Linked DNA regions of Homo sapiens. The protein of the gene in region 4 interacts with the protein of the main gene of each other region in a pairwise test. Each region holds a gene or a part of one and is shown on either strand. Other genes may lie near its edges.

What was found. Proteins that work in one complex are often made in the same cells at the same time.
Region 1: the proteins of BEGAIN (region 4) and FAM90A1 interact in binary tests that used the Homo sapiens proteins (3 or more experiments, as listed by UniProt).
Region 2: the proteins of BEGAIN (region 4) and KIFC3 interact in binary tests that used the Homo sapiens proteins (3 or more experiments, as listed by UniProt).
Region 3: the proteins of BEGAIN (region 4) and ZNF648 interact in binary tests that used the Homo sapiens proteins (3 or more experiments, as listed by UniProt).

Annotation. Positions count from the first base shown.
Region 1 is NC_000012.12:8,220,760-8,224,618, forward strand, and holds the end of FAM90A1 (protein FAM90A1), read right to left. Parts: intron 3,457-3,859; coding exon 3,257-3,456; intron 2,799-3,256; coding exon 2,690-2,798; intron 2,026-2,689; coding exon 1,063-2,025; 3' UTR 501-1,062; downstream 1-500.
Region 2 is NC_000016.10:57,792,492-57,795,991, forward strand, and holds part of KIFC3 (kinesin-like protein KIFC3), read right to left. Parts: intron 2,651-3,500; coding exon 2,508-2,650; intron 1-2,507. UniProt on the Homo sapiens protein: Minus-end microtubule-dependent motor protein. Involved in apically targeted transport. Required for zonula adherens maintenance.
Region 3 is NC_000001.11:182,054,070-182,056,391, forward strand, and holds the end of ZNF648 (zinc finger protein 648), read right to left. Parts: coding exon 2,235-2,322; 3' UTR 501-2,234; downstream 1-500. UniProt on the Homo sapiens protein: May be involved in transcriptional regulation.
Region 4 is NC_000014.9:100,566,216-100,571,320, forward strand, and holds part of BEGAIN (brain-enriched guanylate kinase-associated protein), read right to left. Parts: intron 3,578-5,105; exon of another isoform or gene 2,932-3,577; intron 2,763-2,931; exon of another isoform or gene 2,708-2,762; coding exon of another isoform or gene 2,684-2,707; exon of another isoform or gene 2,476-2,683; intron 2,279-2,475; exon of another isoform or gene 2,251-2,278; coding exon of another isoform or gene 2,230-2,250; intron 2,087-2,229; exon of another isoform or gene 1,725-2,086; coding exon 1,696-1,724; intron 869-1,695; exon of another isoform or gene 710-868; intron 1-709. UniProt on the Homo sapiens protein: May sustain the structure of the postsynaptic density (PSD).

The sequences.
Region 1 (3,859 bases), on a different chromosome or scaffold from region 4:
CTCTGAGCTAGGAGAAAAGCTGCCCTGTGGCGGGAGGCGAGACATGTTGGCAGTAGTGCTGCCTTGTTATTCTTTACTCCACTGAGATATTTGGGTGGAGAGAAACATAAATCTGGCCTACGTGCACGTCCAGGCATAGTACCTTCCCTTGAACTTAATTATGATATAGATTCTTTTGCTCACATGTTTTTTTTGTTGACCTTCTCCTTCTTATCACCCTGCTCTCCTACTACATTCCTTTTTGCTGAAGTAATGAAAATCATAATAAAAAAAACTGAGGGAACTCAGAGGCCGGTGCCGGTGCAGGTCCTTGGTGTGCTGAGTGCCGGTCCCCTGGACCCAGTGTTGTTTCCCTATACTTTGTCTCTGTGTCTTATTTCTTTTCTCCGTCTCTCATCCCACCCGACTAGAAACACCCACAGGTGTGGAGGGGCAGGCCACCCCTTCACTTGGAAAATCAGTTAAACACAAACACGGAATGAAAGTCAAAAGACAATATGTCATCTTTTTGAGAATTTTATTCACTTCAAAACAAATTCAACACACCTATTTACAAAGGGATTCCAGAGCCCACTTTTCGAGGCTGAGGAAAGACCCCGAGAGCGCTTTGCACAGCGCGCTTCCCAGCGTCCGAAACACTGCTCTCAGGGCGGGGCACAGCGGAAGGGCTGCACCTCTCAGGGTTCCCTAACTTTTCCCTTATTCAGTCGTCTAGAGAGCAAATACACAGTAATTCCCCCGTTTCCTATTGACGTCCCAGCGGAAGTCTGACTCCTGCGCGTCATGCAGTTTCTGAGGCAACGAATCACTGGCACGGAAGCTTTTCCTGGCGCGTTTCCAGAGAACCATGCGAACTACAATGTCCCTCACCAGAATTCAACGTGGCAGAGTCCCTGCATCTGCTCCCTGCCTGGCCTGGGCTCCCACATCCACAGAAGGGCCACAGCCGGGGAGCTTCGGAGTCACCGCACAGAGTCTGCTCTCTGCTCTGTGCTCCTCAGTCCCACAGTCCCCTCCAAGTCACGGGAGCTGGAGGCCAAGGAGCCCCTGCCACCTGCAGTCTCACTCCAGGTCAGAATCGCTGTCCTCTGAGGAGGAGGGAACCTGAAGGTCCTCATAGAGGACGCTTGGTGGGACACGAACACAGGGACCCTCAGACTTCTCTGAGACATGAGGGCTCTGAGCGAGGAAGGCTCCCGGCTTCTCAGGAGAGTGAAATGAGGGGGCCGTCAGCAGGCTGGAGCTCCAGCGTCCGTTTTCCAGTCTCCGAAAGAGCACTCTGAGAGGCTGGGCCCCATCATGGCTGGCCGCTGGGTGATGGGACATGGTGCAGGCCTGGGCAGTAGGCAGGCAAGGTCTGCTGTGCGGAGGCTGCCGGTCGCCGCTAAGCACCTGGGCGGGTGTCCTCGTGCCTGTCTGGGGTGACGTACGTGGTCCAAGTTCGGTTGCGGCTGGCGGAGGTTGGAGATTCTCCGGGGCCCCCAGCTCACCTCCCTGGATGGCGCTTTCGGGGATCTGGAAGGGACCCAGTCTCGGTTTCTTGGGGAAGTTCAGGCAAGCCTGAATCGGAGCCGGGGCAGATCTCTTGGCTCCTGGCCCGAAGCTGAGATTGGAGCCTAGGCCCAAGCTGTGTGTGGCGGCTGGTGGGCAGGGCTGTGAGGTCACCGCAGGACGTTTGTCTTGTGCCTGGGGGCTGACGGCCTGGAGCAGGCCGTGGGTTTTGGAGGCAGCCTGGGGAACTTCTCGACAGCCACCCGCAGGGCTGCTGTGTGTCGGCTTCACCACGAGGAGAGGCTCGGGGCCCTGGTGCCTGACTGCAGTCTGAGGGATGTCGGCCGCAGCCCCTGTCTGTCTTTCCTTTGGTCCAAGACTTGAGGAGGAGCTCAGACTGGCTTTTCTGAGGGGAGACAGTGAAGCTAAGACGGAGCCCCTGTCAGACATTTCGGTAGCTGAGCGATCAGAGAGGACAGGGTCCACACGCGGCCTCTTACTGGTTGTGTGGACCGGCATTGGCCCGCTTGCAACCTGAAAGAGAGGAAACAACACAGGTTAGAAGTTCCTCAGCATGGAGCCAACATGAAAATCAACCACATCCAAAGACAAGGTGCACACGCCATGAAATTCTTAGTACACTATCGACAGGCGGTCCTTGGAAGTAGGGACAGACCCTCCACCTGAGTGCTGATCAGGACAAGACACATGAAAGATGCGCTCTCGAGCTATGTGTAGCTGATCTAAGCACACCATTGTTCAAAAGATTGCGTCTTAGGCATTAGCTGGATCAAAGCGCCTCCACTCAGCCTTCCATGAAGTGGAACCGACTGATGCCCTTCCGAAGGCAGGTTGGTGGCTCAAGGGTACTCAGGACGTCTTCTCTGAACATATGCATGTTCCTGGGTTTAGCCTTCTCCACGTTTGGGGCCTCTGAGGGACTAATTTCCTCATGCCGCTAGGAACGTGTTGTTGGCAGGCTTGCCATAATTGGACAGAAAGAAAGCAACAGGAAATACGGCATCTTCAGATGCCTTCGCCTGGAATCAAATTGACCTGGAAGGATCGTGGAGTGTCTGACCCCAAGAAGGCAAGAAAGAGGGGTTCCCCGATTCCCTCCCGCAGACGGGAAGCTGAAAGGAAATCAACCAGGGTGACCTAGAGGAGAAAAAGACCAGGGGCCCAGGGTGACCCTCACCCTCAGATAATCAGAAGATTCCGTGGATCCTTTTTGATTTGGCAGCGGCTTCTCTGGAGGTTTCCTGGAAAATATGTGGAGGAGAGCCTTCCTCTGCGGGTCTTGTGGCCTGCAGAACAGAAAAAGGTCAGGCCGTCCTCCCTGGTTTTCCCCAGGAGACGGGGAGAACCCTGTCTGGGGCCCAGTCCCATTCCGTGTTTTGTGATACAGAAATGGACATCTGGTGCCCTTTCCGCCTCTGCACCTTCCCTCACGTGCCAACCTTCCCATCCTCCAGGTGGCCCTCTAGGCTTCCCAACTAAGGACTGTGATTTGGATTCCATCACTTTTCCCCCTGTCGTGGGGAACCTGCACGAAGCGCCCCCGCCCCTCCCCGTCCCTGAATCTCCCAGAGCCAAAGGAGCTCTTGGGTGTGGAACTCCGGAAGACACAGAGCTCCGGTCTGTTTCTCTGCAGCGTTCCTTCCCTGGCCCGGAGACGGAAAGGCACACGGTGTGCAGGTGCAGAGACACCATGTCCTTAGGAGGCAGTACCCTAAGAGTGGTGAAAACCACTCCCACTGCTCACCTTGGTCTCTCTTCCTTCTCTCCCTTATCCTTGTTCAAGGGCCCAGGGTTCGCTTCAACCTGGGGCTTCCATGGTTTCAGGTTTTCCTTCCCTTCCTTTTCCCCAAAGTTCGGTGGAACCAGGGCTGCCTTCCAGCACTTCATGGGGCACCTGGTACTTCTGGCCGTGTGGCCAAAGGCCTCACAGTTTTTGCACTTGAGCTGTGGGTGGAAAGGAAGTGATGTCAGTGAGTGAGCTGAAGCCACAGGCACCGATCCCACGTCAACATTGAGACGGATTGTGAATTCAGAGCTGAATAAGGATTCCAAAGAGGGGACACCGGCATGGGGGCCGTTAAGTGCTGGGAGAGTTCGGATACGATGTTCCCTCCCAAAGCCCATGTGACGGAGGAACTCTAAAAGGCAGGACTCAAGGTCCTAAGGGGCACGATGGTGAACCCGATGTCAACAACACAGCCAAACGTGGCTACACAGGACTCTAAGTAGAAAGGGAGGTTGCCCCCAAGAGTCTCTCAAGGGGCCTATCGGGCCGGGGAGGAGGTCCCAAGCCACGCCCACCTTGGATGGGAAAAGCAACCTGGGTGGTGGTGACAGAACTCTTTGG
Region 2 (3,500 bases), on a different chromosome or scaffold from region 4:
AGCACAGATATTTGTTTAAGGAGCTCACTGCAATCAGAAACAATACAGAGGATCTGTTATAAATAATTTATGGTAAGCCCTGAAGTAGACTATTACGCAGCCGTGTAAAAGAAAGAGGTAGGGCCGGGCGTAATGGCTCACATCTGTAATCCCAGCACTTTGGGAAGCCAAGGCAGAGCCCACAAGTTCGGGACCAGCCTGGGCAACATGATGAAACCTCCGTCTCTACAAAAATTACAAAAATTAGCCAGGTGTGGTGGCACATGCCAGTAGTCCCAGCTACTCAGGAGGCTGAGGTGAGATGACTTGGCTGGAGGTTGCAGTGAGATTCTACCACTGCATTCCAGCCTGGGCAACAGAGCCAGACCTTGCTCAAAAAAAAAAAAAAAAAAAAAAAAAAAGGGTAGTTCTCTATGTGTTGATGAGCATGAAGAGATTACCAGGACTTACTTGAGGGAAAGAGCTAGTGACAGAATAACATGTAAAATAAATAATAAAAATCATATAAATATGCACTGGGAACTGTGGCTCATGCCTGTAATCCCAGCACTTTGGGAGGTTGAGGCGGGTAGATCACTTGAGGTAAGGAGTTCAAGACCAGCCTGGCCAACATGGTGAAACCCCATCTCTACTAAAAATACAAAAATTAGCCAGGTGTGGTGGCACATGCCTGTAGTCCAGCTATTCGGGAGGCTGAGGCATGAGAATCGCTTGAACCTGGGAGGTGAAGGTTGCAGTGGGCTGCAATCATGCCACTGCACTCCAACCTGGGCAACAGAGTGAGACTCTGTCTCAAAAAAAAAAAAATCATATAAATATGGCTGGGTGCACTGGCTCACACCTGTAATCCCAGCACTTTGGGAGGCTGGGGCGGGCAGATCACTCGAGGTTAGGAGTTCAAGACCAGCCTGGCCAACATGATGAAACCCTGTCTCTACTAAAAATACAAACATTAGCTGGGCACGGTGGCACACGCCTGTAATCCCAGCTACTTGGGAGGCTGAGACAGGAGAATCACTGGAATCCGGGAGGCGGAGGCTGCAGTGAGCTGAGATCATGCCATTGCACTCCAGCCTGGGCGACAGAGCGAGACTCTGTCTCAAAAAAAAAAAACAAAAAAAGAGTTCAAGACCAGCCTGGCCAACATGGTGAAATGGTGAAACCTTATCTCTACTAAAAATATAAAAATTAGCCAGGTGTGATGATGCACACCTGTAATCCCAGCTACTCAGGAGGCTGAGGTAGGAGAATCACTTGAACCCGGGAGGCGGATATTACAGCCAAGATCACGCCACTGCACTCCAGCCTGGGCAACAGAGTGAACGAGACTCCATCTCAAAAATAAAAATCATATAAATTTAATTAAGTGGTTCTATATAGGAAAGATAAACAAATAAACACCAAATACTTAATAGTGGATTTCTCAAAGATAGAGGACTAAGAGAGGCAGTTTCTGGATAACTGTATCTCTGCCCTGTTACAAGGCTAGTTGTGTTGAATGGTCGAATATGTGACCAGCAGCGAGTAACTTAACCTCTCTGAGCCTCCACATCCTCATCTATAAAGCTCAGATCAAATACTGTATCCTGAGATTGTTATGAGTATGATGAGGACTAACATGAGATCTTTTAATGCCTGGCACAGAGTCCATGTTTGATAAACAGTAGCTCTTATTACTATTATCGTTATGTATTATTTCTATAGCCAAATATACATACATATGTAAAGTTTATCTTTTTTCTTTTCTTTTTTTTTTTTTGAGACAGGGTCTCACTCTGTCACGCAGGCTGGAGTGCAGTGGTGCAATCACTGCAGCCTCAACCTCCTGGGCTCAAGCGATCCTCCCACCCCAGCCTCCTGAGTAGCTGGGACTATAGGAACCACCATGCCCAGCTAATTTTTTATTTTTCTTTTTGTAGAGATAGGGTCTCACTATATTGTCCAGGCTGGTCGTGAACTCCTGGGCTCAAGCGATCCTCCTATCTCAGCCTCCCAAAGTGGTGAGATTACAGGCCTGAGCCACCGCGCCTAGCCTTACTTTGTCATTTTAAAGTCACTTGGTGATAACTGCAAGGGAGAAGACCCCAAGTTTTAGTGAATCCTCCATCTAGCTTTGAATTCTCACTTCAAACAAGGAAATATTCCCAAGGAAATACAAGGAAATACTCACATAACCATGTTTCAGAATAATCAACCACCCCAAACCTGCCTGTTTTCCCAATACCTTCTCCAAGCTCTGCCCATCTCAGCTAAGGCCCCATGCTTCCCATTTTAACACCTCAGCCAGGGCATGGCTGAAAAGCTCCTGTCAGCTCCTATGAGATTTCCCGTCTGACTTAATAAAGCAGGCTCCCAGGCAGAGGGGTCATGAGGGGCCCAACAGAGAGGTGCGAGGTGGGTCCCCGGCTCTCCCCAGGTGCTTCCTACCCCCAGAAGCCTGGCAGGAACCCAGCCACTGGAGCTCAGAGAGCCAAGGCACATGCAGCCTGGAAGGCCCCAGTGCTTACCTGCAGGGTCAGGTAGAGCCCGTGGGGGCTTCCGGGGCCAGCCCAGTCCACGCTAAGGGCTCGGCACTGAGCTAGGGCTGGGCGAGCTGCACTTCGGGCACTGGAGTCCTCGTCACCGCAGACTGGGGTATCTTTTCCACGCCCTGTCCCAGGACAGAGAGATAGGTGAGACACTCCGACCACTGGCCAAAGACTGCTAGCCATGGACCACTGGCCAGGGCCGCAGCTGAGCTCAGCTTTCACACATCCCTGGCTGGTCCAGATGTGGCCAGGAGGGGCTCACACACCCAAAAAACGCCTGCCCTGCAGAGGGGAAGGCCTGGCTCGGGGCAGTGGCTACGCTCCTTCCTTACCAAAAGCCGCCCAAAGATTCTCTTCTGGAAGGGGCCCAATACCCCACCGGAGGCTCCCCTATCCCCACAGTGGCTTTTGGGGCAGGCATCTGCTCAGCAGGGAAGTGGAAGGAAGCCATTGCCAGCCAGCCTGCATGAAGCTTTGAGGACTTGCACAGGGGCTATGGCTTTATTACCCCGGCTGCCTCTAGGTGGCAATTTCTTCCCTGACTTCATTAAGACAAAATCCAAACCAGGTGGCCCAGCCTCCGTTGCCTCCCCAAGCGTATTCAGAACCAGCTAACGTGCATCCCCTTGTGCCTCTGACACACCGCCTCCCTCACCCATGGGAGAGAGGGCGGGCTGTGGCAGCAATGCCCCAGCCACCCACCTCCACCTGCAGGGCTGAACAGGGTGGGATGGGGGCCAGCCTCACGAGTCATGAGGCACACTGCAGAGCCACTACCCTGGGGCGTAACAATATCCCGAGTGCCAGCCACTGGGCCAAGTGCTTTTCAGGCCTTACACACATTCTGTTTTTTTGGGCTTTTTTGTTTTTTTTTTTTTTTTTTTTTTTTTTTGAGACAGGGCCTCTCTCTGTTGCCCAGGCTGGAGTGCAGTGGTGCGATCTTGGCTCACTGCAACCTCCACCTCCCGGGTT
Region 3 (2,322 bases), on a different chromosome or scaffold from region 4:
CTACTGGTTCCAATGGGATTCCTTTCTTCTCTAATACCTACTCAGAATGACCCTTGCAGTTGATGTGAGAAAAGACTGGTTGGGACAATTTTCCTTAAAATCTGAGTTGTTTTGTGAAAGGCCTGAAGGACTAATGAACTTCTCTTGGACCTGTTCAGTACATTCTACCCCTTATATTCCAGAAACATAGTATACAGCACCAAAGATACCCAGCACAAGCAAATCCAGCGTTTCTGCCTATTAACAAGTACGCTCACTCCTTCTCCAAAGCTATGCCCATGTGGAAGCCATACCTAGATACCACACTGCAGACCTTTATCAGTATTCAAGGTTAGGGTTCAGCAAGTTATATGGTTAACAAACAGCGCAGGTGACTCCTATGCAACCAGGTTTTGGCGAACAACTCCATAAAAATTATAAAACAAAACCAATTTTTTTAATTTGTAAAAACTATACTAATGACCATCTTCAAGAAAGGATACAATGAAAAGGAGTAATCCTTCAGTCTTCAAATATTTTATTGATTATCTAGGAAAAAAAAGTTAGCTTTTGCTCTCTTCATAGTCACAAGCTCATCTTGTGACTTTTCTACCAATTTAAAGCTCTTGCATCCAGCCAAAGTTTCCGTCATATAGTAGGATCACTCTAACTTTTACCTACTACTATCACTTCTATTTTGCCAATGCAGATGCAGAAACTGAAGCCCAAGGTCACATCAACAGTAAAGGATGGGGATGGACTCTTTTATTACGGTTACCTTGGTCAAACAAGACACAAGACTATCTAGCTATCTAGCTATCTAGCTATCTCTCTTACTTCTCTTTGGCGCCCCCATGTGTCATGAGAATGCTATTTAGAGGTCACACCCTAGTTCCAAATCAGGTGGAAACCAAGAGAAATTCAGATTTGGCATTCTTTGGTGGCAATTTTAGGAATATACTAAAGGTACTCCCCCAAAAAGGGCACTATACCTTCTTATGGAATATCTTATTTAACTTCAGTAAGATGAGAAGTGCCGTTTGCCTATGTGCACCAAGGACATCTGTGGAGTCATAGATTCCTCACAGTTGAGGTTCAGCTAAGAACTACTGACTTTATACAGATCACTATACACATCAATACACTTTGCAGAATGGCTGTTAGTAATGCAAACTTTGAAATAACCTCATTAGATAACTGTGAGCACGTAGGCTTCCATACCTGGTTTTAATGATTTTGAAATGCAGACAAGCCAATGGCACTTGGGCAAAGGGTGTTTTGTTCACTTCAAGTCAAGACTAATGATTCAGACAAATTTAAATGAACCCAAACGGTTTCATGAACCATGGTCAAGGCTTTGTGGAGAAATTATATATGTCTCTCTGTAAATGGGCCAATTGCTTTGTAAATATCACATATGACTTAAGCCCTCAGAGTGCAAACAGGAAAAGAGGCAGCCAGAGAGAAGGCATATATGAATTTATATGAATTCTGTGGGTGAGACTCGGGTTAGATCTACTTACTAAATTCCACTATAAAGAGGAATGGGCTTCTTTTTCAGATGCTAAGGCTGTCCTGAACTTCTAGAATAACTGGAATATGACATAAACCACCTTCTCTAAGATAAAGCCCTTCTCCACTTCAAAGCCAAGACTCATAAAGATATATCCTAAGGGTAAAGCCATTTCTGCAGTCAAGTGAAATGATGGGATGTTGGACTGGGTTTGAGTTCCTCCAAAAACGGCGTTGCTTTGGGGGAGTTCATCATAGGGACCACTTCTGGGGATTCCTTTATTTATATAAAAACCAAAAAGCATCTTTCTCTAAAGAGGACCAGCCCCTCAGGCCTTCTTTTCAGTATTTGCATATGGCTTTGAGGGTAGGACAGGTTAGTCTTTTTCCCCACCTTATCCCTGGAGCCCGGCCCAGTGCCCAGCATGTAATTCTAGAAGCAGTTTCTGATTGATTCAGGTTCCCCAACCCAAGGAACTCAACGTTTGATCAGCTCCCACTACTTTGTCTTTCCCTTTTCCAATTGCTTATGACCTCGGACACTCAGAACCACTGATGTGAAACCACCCACCTGGGTGCTCTCTCGGTGGTGACTTTCTGTTCAAGGGATCAAATAAATAATCAAATGGACCACTGATGACCCGCGACCTGCTGGGAGGCGAGGCTGACCAGTGAGGCTGGCAATACCATGTGAGTGGGCCCACCTGGGAAGGTTCCAAGTAGTGAGGTCGACGATGCTATCTTCACTCGTCAGAGGAGGAAGGGATGGGCTCCTTCTTGCAGGTGCCGTGCTTGGCTCGGTGTCGTTGGAGGTGATTGGACCTGGTGAAG
Region 4 (5,105 bases):
TGGCTTAGCCCAGGGAAGCCTCAGCCCGCCTGGGACAGCAACGCTGACGCCATCAGCAGCTCAGGCAGCAGATCCGCCCACCTGGCACACCTGCCTACCTGTGCACCCAGCCGGGCGGGGTCATGCCTCTGTCCTCAGTGCCTGGCACACAGGAATAGGTGCCGGAGAGCCTTGGCCGGGCACAGGGAAGGAGGGAAAGAGAAAGAGAACCACCGCAGGGAACCCCCAGGCTGGCCTCAGGGCACCCCATGAATGCTAAGTTTTTCCTCAAGTCTCAGCTGAGTTAAGCAGTGTTTCCTCCCCCCCACAGGCGGTACAACCCAGGTGGTGAAATGACAGCCAATGTGGGGCACCAGGGAAGGGCCCTGGCCTGGGCCAGAGCCTGAGTTTGGGCCTGAGGTCATCTGTGTGACCACAGCCAGGGCTGTCGCTCTTTGGGCCTCACCGCCCCCACCTGGACCTTGGCCACGACAAGGTGGGCCTGGCTGATGGGTATCAGGTATTTGGGGTCTGAGATTGAACCACCTCAGAGACTGGACCCCTCCTCCCAGCACAAGACATGTTGGTCCTGTCCCTGTGGGACCCACAGTGGGGGCTGCACATCAGCTCCATGGCCCAGGAGATGGCCCTGCTCTGAGAGTCCACCCTGGGTCTCTGTGTGAGCCCACCTGCCCCCAGGCTCCCACCTGGGTGTTTCCAAGCCACTCACCCACGGCACTAAGGGTCAGCTGGCAGAGCCCAGGGCCCCTCTGCCCTAGACCTGGGCCCAGGCTGGGCTCTGCTCCTTGGGGGAGGGATGCTCCTCTACCCGGCCTCCTCCCCAGGATGCCAATTCTGGCCTCGGGAGGGAGTGGCGAGGACGGAGACCCTGTGGGCCAGGGGAGACAGTGCTGAAACCCAGCAGCCAGAGCTGGGCCTGCCGCCCACACAACGCCTCGGCTCAGGCTCCGGAAGGAAAACACGGGAGGGGTGTTCCCAAAGTAGGGGTCAGGGTGCCAGGGGAAGTCGTGGAGGAAGTGGCAAATATTCAAACTGGCTGATCCCAGGCCTGCCGCGCAGGTGGTCCCGTGAAGTCTACCAAGGCTTAAAGTTTGGCACCGGGAGGGAGGCCGCGGGGGACACTCCCCAGAAGCTGTCGCGGGATTCCCCCAAAATGGCTCCAAGACGCGGCTGCCTGGTCCAGCCGCGAGGACTCCATCCCCCACCCCCGCCCCCCAGAGGCGGACACTTAAAAGCTCAGAGCCAGGCAACTGGCAGCCCGGGGGCTGGGGCGGGTGGTGGTTGGGGGTGGGGTGGGGTCGGGGGAGAGAGCGCCGGGGCAGTGCGGAACGGCACGAACGGAACCCGGAGGGTCCCCGGGGACCAGCGAGAGTCCAGGGCAGGGAGCCAGAGGGGCGCTGAGGACCGCACAGGACCAGGCGGCCCCGGGTAGGGGGCAGCCCGGCCCTCAGTGGCGCTAGCCCCAGCCCCCGCCGCAGCGGCCCGGGCCGGCGGAGGAGCCCCGCGCGAGGCTCCCCAGCGCCTCGCGGCGCGCACACACGCACCACACACACGCACCTGGCCCGCAGCCCCGCCGAGGCCGCCCGCGGGCCCTGGGGGATGCGCTCGGGTGGAGCCCCCTTCCCCCGCCTTCCCCAGCGCCCTCACCCCCGACCCGGCCCCCGCGAGCCGCGGCACGGGAGACGCTCCACTCACCTGAGTTTCTCCATGTCTGCGGCAGAGGCCTGCGAGAAACCAAACGAGAGGGTCAGCAGGCAGGAGGCGTGCGCTCCGCGGCCGCGCCGGGCAGAGCCGGGCACAGCGGGCACGGCCGGGCAACCCCGCGGGGCCCCGTCCGTGGGAAGCCCGGCGCCGCGCGTCCCCAGCTTCCAGTCCCGGCCGCGGCCCCCGTGACTCAGTGGGCGCGCCGGGCCGCGGCCGAGTAACAGGTGAGCCCGCCCGGGCCGCCGCGCTCCCCGCACCGAGTTACGCCCCCCGGGGCGAAGAAGGGGCCGGCCCGGGATGGCCCGGCCAGGGGCGATCTCGGCCTCGCCCGGAGGAGGGGGACTCGGCCTGTCCCCGTTAACTCTCCGGCGGCCGCGGCCCCGCTGCTCCCCCCGCCCCGCCCGTTAACCCTTCCTGCCCCGCGCTCCCTCCCGGAGGAAGCCGAACCCCGGAATCGCAGAACCTCCGAGTCGGAGAATGTTGGGGAATTCGGGGCCGTGCAGGATTGCAGAACCTGACACTCACACAATCCGAGGGCGATGGCATTTGGAGCCTCGACTCCTCAATCAGGGACCCGCTGCCCTCAGATTCTGGGGTTTTGGGCCTGGCTTGCCCCTCCCGGGCCCCAGGGATTAACCCGTGAGCGCCCGGCTCGCCGGCGGGGCTCCCTGCCTTGCTTGCGCAGACCCGCCCGCGCGCGGCTTGGAGACCCTCCCTGCCCAGCCCCGCTCAGCCGGGCAGCCCCTCCGCGCGCCGGGCAGGGGGACCCACCCGCCGCCGTTAACCTTGTGGGCGCGGGCGAGCGACGGGGACCGCGAGCGGCCCGGGCGGGATCGCACTTCCTGCGTGGAGCTGGGGGCGCCGGGCGGGCTCTCTATCACCCGGGAGAGGCCGCTCCCCGGGGCTTTGCCCGTCTTTCTGTGCCGTGACTGGCACTCAAGGGGGACAGGGGTCCGAGCTCAGGGACCACGCGACAGACCTGGGAAGACTGATGACTGCCCATCCCGGCCCCTCGCGCCGGGCGCCGCCGCCGCGTCCGCCGGGAGCGCGCTCCGCTCGGGTCCGGGCCCCACGCCGCCTCCCCCACCGCCCCGCCGGGCGAGGGCGCAGCCCGGCCGCAGCGCCAAGCTAGAAGGCCCGGCCCCGGGGCCTCGGCCAGGCTCGGCCACCAACTTCCCGGGTGCTCGGGCCGGCCTTCCGGCGCTCTCCCGGCCTCAGTTTCCTCACCTGAAAGCTGGGGGGAAGGGGGAGGCAGCTGGACGAGGCGCTCCACTGCCCTTCCGCACCCGCGGGCTGCGGATCGGCTGGGGTGGGGGAAGGAATTTCAGGGGAAGGGATCCCTAAGGCGCCCGGATGGCGGTTCCCCTCCCCAGACGCTCTAAAAGTTGTCCAAGACCACAAGCCTGGACCCCTCCATAAACCCTCCTCCTGCAAGACAAGGAGTTTGCCGGGAAGACTTTGCCGCCGGCCAGCGCGACCCCCACACCGCTCTCTTCCCCAGGCCCACCTTTCCGGGTCCCCATGACAGCGCTTCTCATGCTAGGTCCCAGCATACAGCAGGCGCTCAATAAACACGGACAGTGCATGCCTGGATCCTACGGCACTGGAGCCTGTCTTTCCTGGCCCTTTCCCCTCCTGGCTGTGAGCTCCCGGGCAGGAGCCCTGTGTTCTCACCAGGACACCCCCAGCACCCAGCAGGCTTGGCCTGCGCTGAGCCAGCGCAGGGTGGGAGGAGCCGTCCACTCAGAGGGTCAGACCTGAACCAGGATCAAACCAAACCCAAGAAATCCAAGTGTTCCTCCATCCACGGACACCCACTCGTTCACTAGCTCTGGGCTAAGTTCTCCAGCAGAGAGGGGACAGCAGACAAAGCAGAGAGGGGACAGCAGAGGAAGCAAGCTCTGCTCTCCAGGGGCTAATGAGGAAAACCCCCTCCGCCCCCCTCCGGTCCTGGGAGGCCACCCTCAGCAGAATGGCCACGGTAGTCATAACAATAACGTCCACCGCCCCTTACACATCATAGCGCTTCCCACGGCTCCTCACCACAGCTCTGCCATGGAAGCCCCGGACCCCCTATGCGGGAGCAAAGCTCCAACAGAGAAGAGGCTTGCTGGAGATCCCGCAGCTGAAGGGGCCCAGCTGCGCCTGGACCCCACTGCTCAGGAGCCTTTCCCACCCAAAGGCTGTCTCTGGTTGCCAACCTCAATCACTCACGGCGAATGACCTGCCAGGGAGTTTGTCTAAAATTAATAAGAATGTATTAAAATTTAATTTTAAAAATCTAGCATTAATTATTTACATTGAATGTTTCAGCCCTTCTAAAAGGCCTGGATGGGAATTCCCCCCACCCCCAGAAGGGAACTGGGGGGAAAGGCAGGGGAGGTTGCTGAGCTGCCCTGGTGGAGCAGTGGGGGCTGGGCAGGGCAAGAGACAGGCAGGGAACAGGCAGCCCCTGCCCTTCAAGCCTATTCTAGAGCCTGAAGCCTGGCTTTGATGCTGCTGTAGCTCAAATCCTCCTCTGACCCATTGCCTTCGGGGCAACCACTGCCCTCCCCCTTGGAGGCTGTATCCTCCATGCGGCCCTCTGTGGGAACTCTGGGGAGTCACTGAGTTTACCCCCACACCAGATGGGACAGGACTCTGTGTCCCAGCTCTGTGTCCCTGGACCAGCCCAGCACCTGGCAGGGGCGGGGGGACTAAAAGATGGGTTGTGCCTGATGCTCTCCATGCAGGAGTGACACAGGCATCTTTATGGGTGGCTAGGGAGAAGATAGCAGGGAAGCTCCCCTGGCCGAGGTGCTACGCCCTCGGGGACAGTCTCCCATGAGGCTCCTGCACGGGCCCAGCACCCCGGGTGCAAGTTTTGATTCAGCCATTCATTGACCACAAGACTCGGTGATTTTCGTGAGACCCTTACTACGGGTGAGGAAACGGAGGCCAGCGCATGAAGTGGCTTGCTCAAGTCCCCTGAGGTTAGCCGAGGCCTGCCTGATGGGCTGGAGAACCGCGGCGCTGCCTGGGTCTTGGGCCAGTGGGTGGGGGCCATGAGGATGAGGAGTCTGTGGGGTGCCCCAGGGTTCCCACTGTGAAGTGAGGGGGCGGGATCTCCCTTAGGGAGGCTGGGACCCCAGGGTGCACACTGGGTGCCCTCGGGGGACAGTCCTCATGGCACAGTCCTTCCCCGCCTCTGGGCGCTGTCCAGCCCCATTCACACCCGCTGCCTCTTCCTCCAACACACCTCTCCCCACCGTCTGCCTTAAGTCCCTACCTCTTTCTGGTGGTCCAGCCCAGCAGCCACCTTTATCTTCTGACCCCTCACAGGAGCCCTGCCTGTTGGCCACTAGCCCCTGCTCTCTCCTCACTCCCACCTGTGGCCATCTGGGTCCTGATGACGTGCCCAT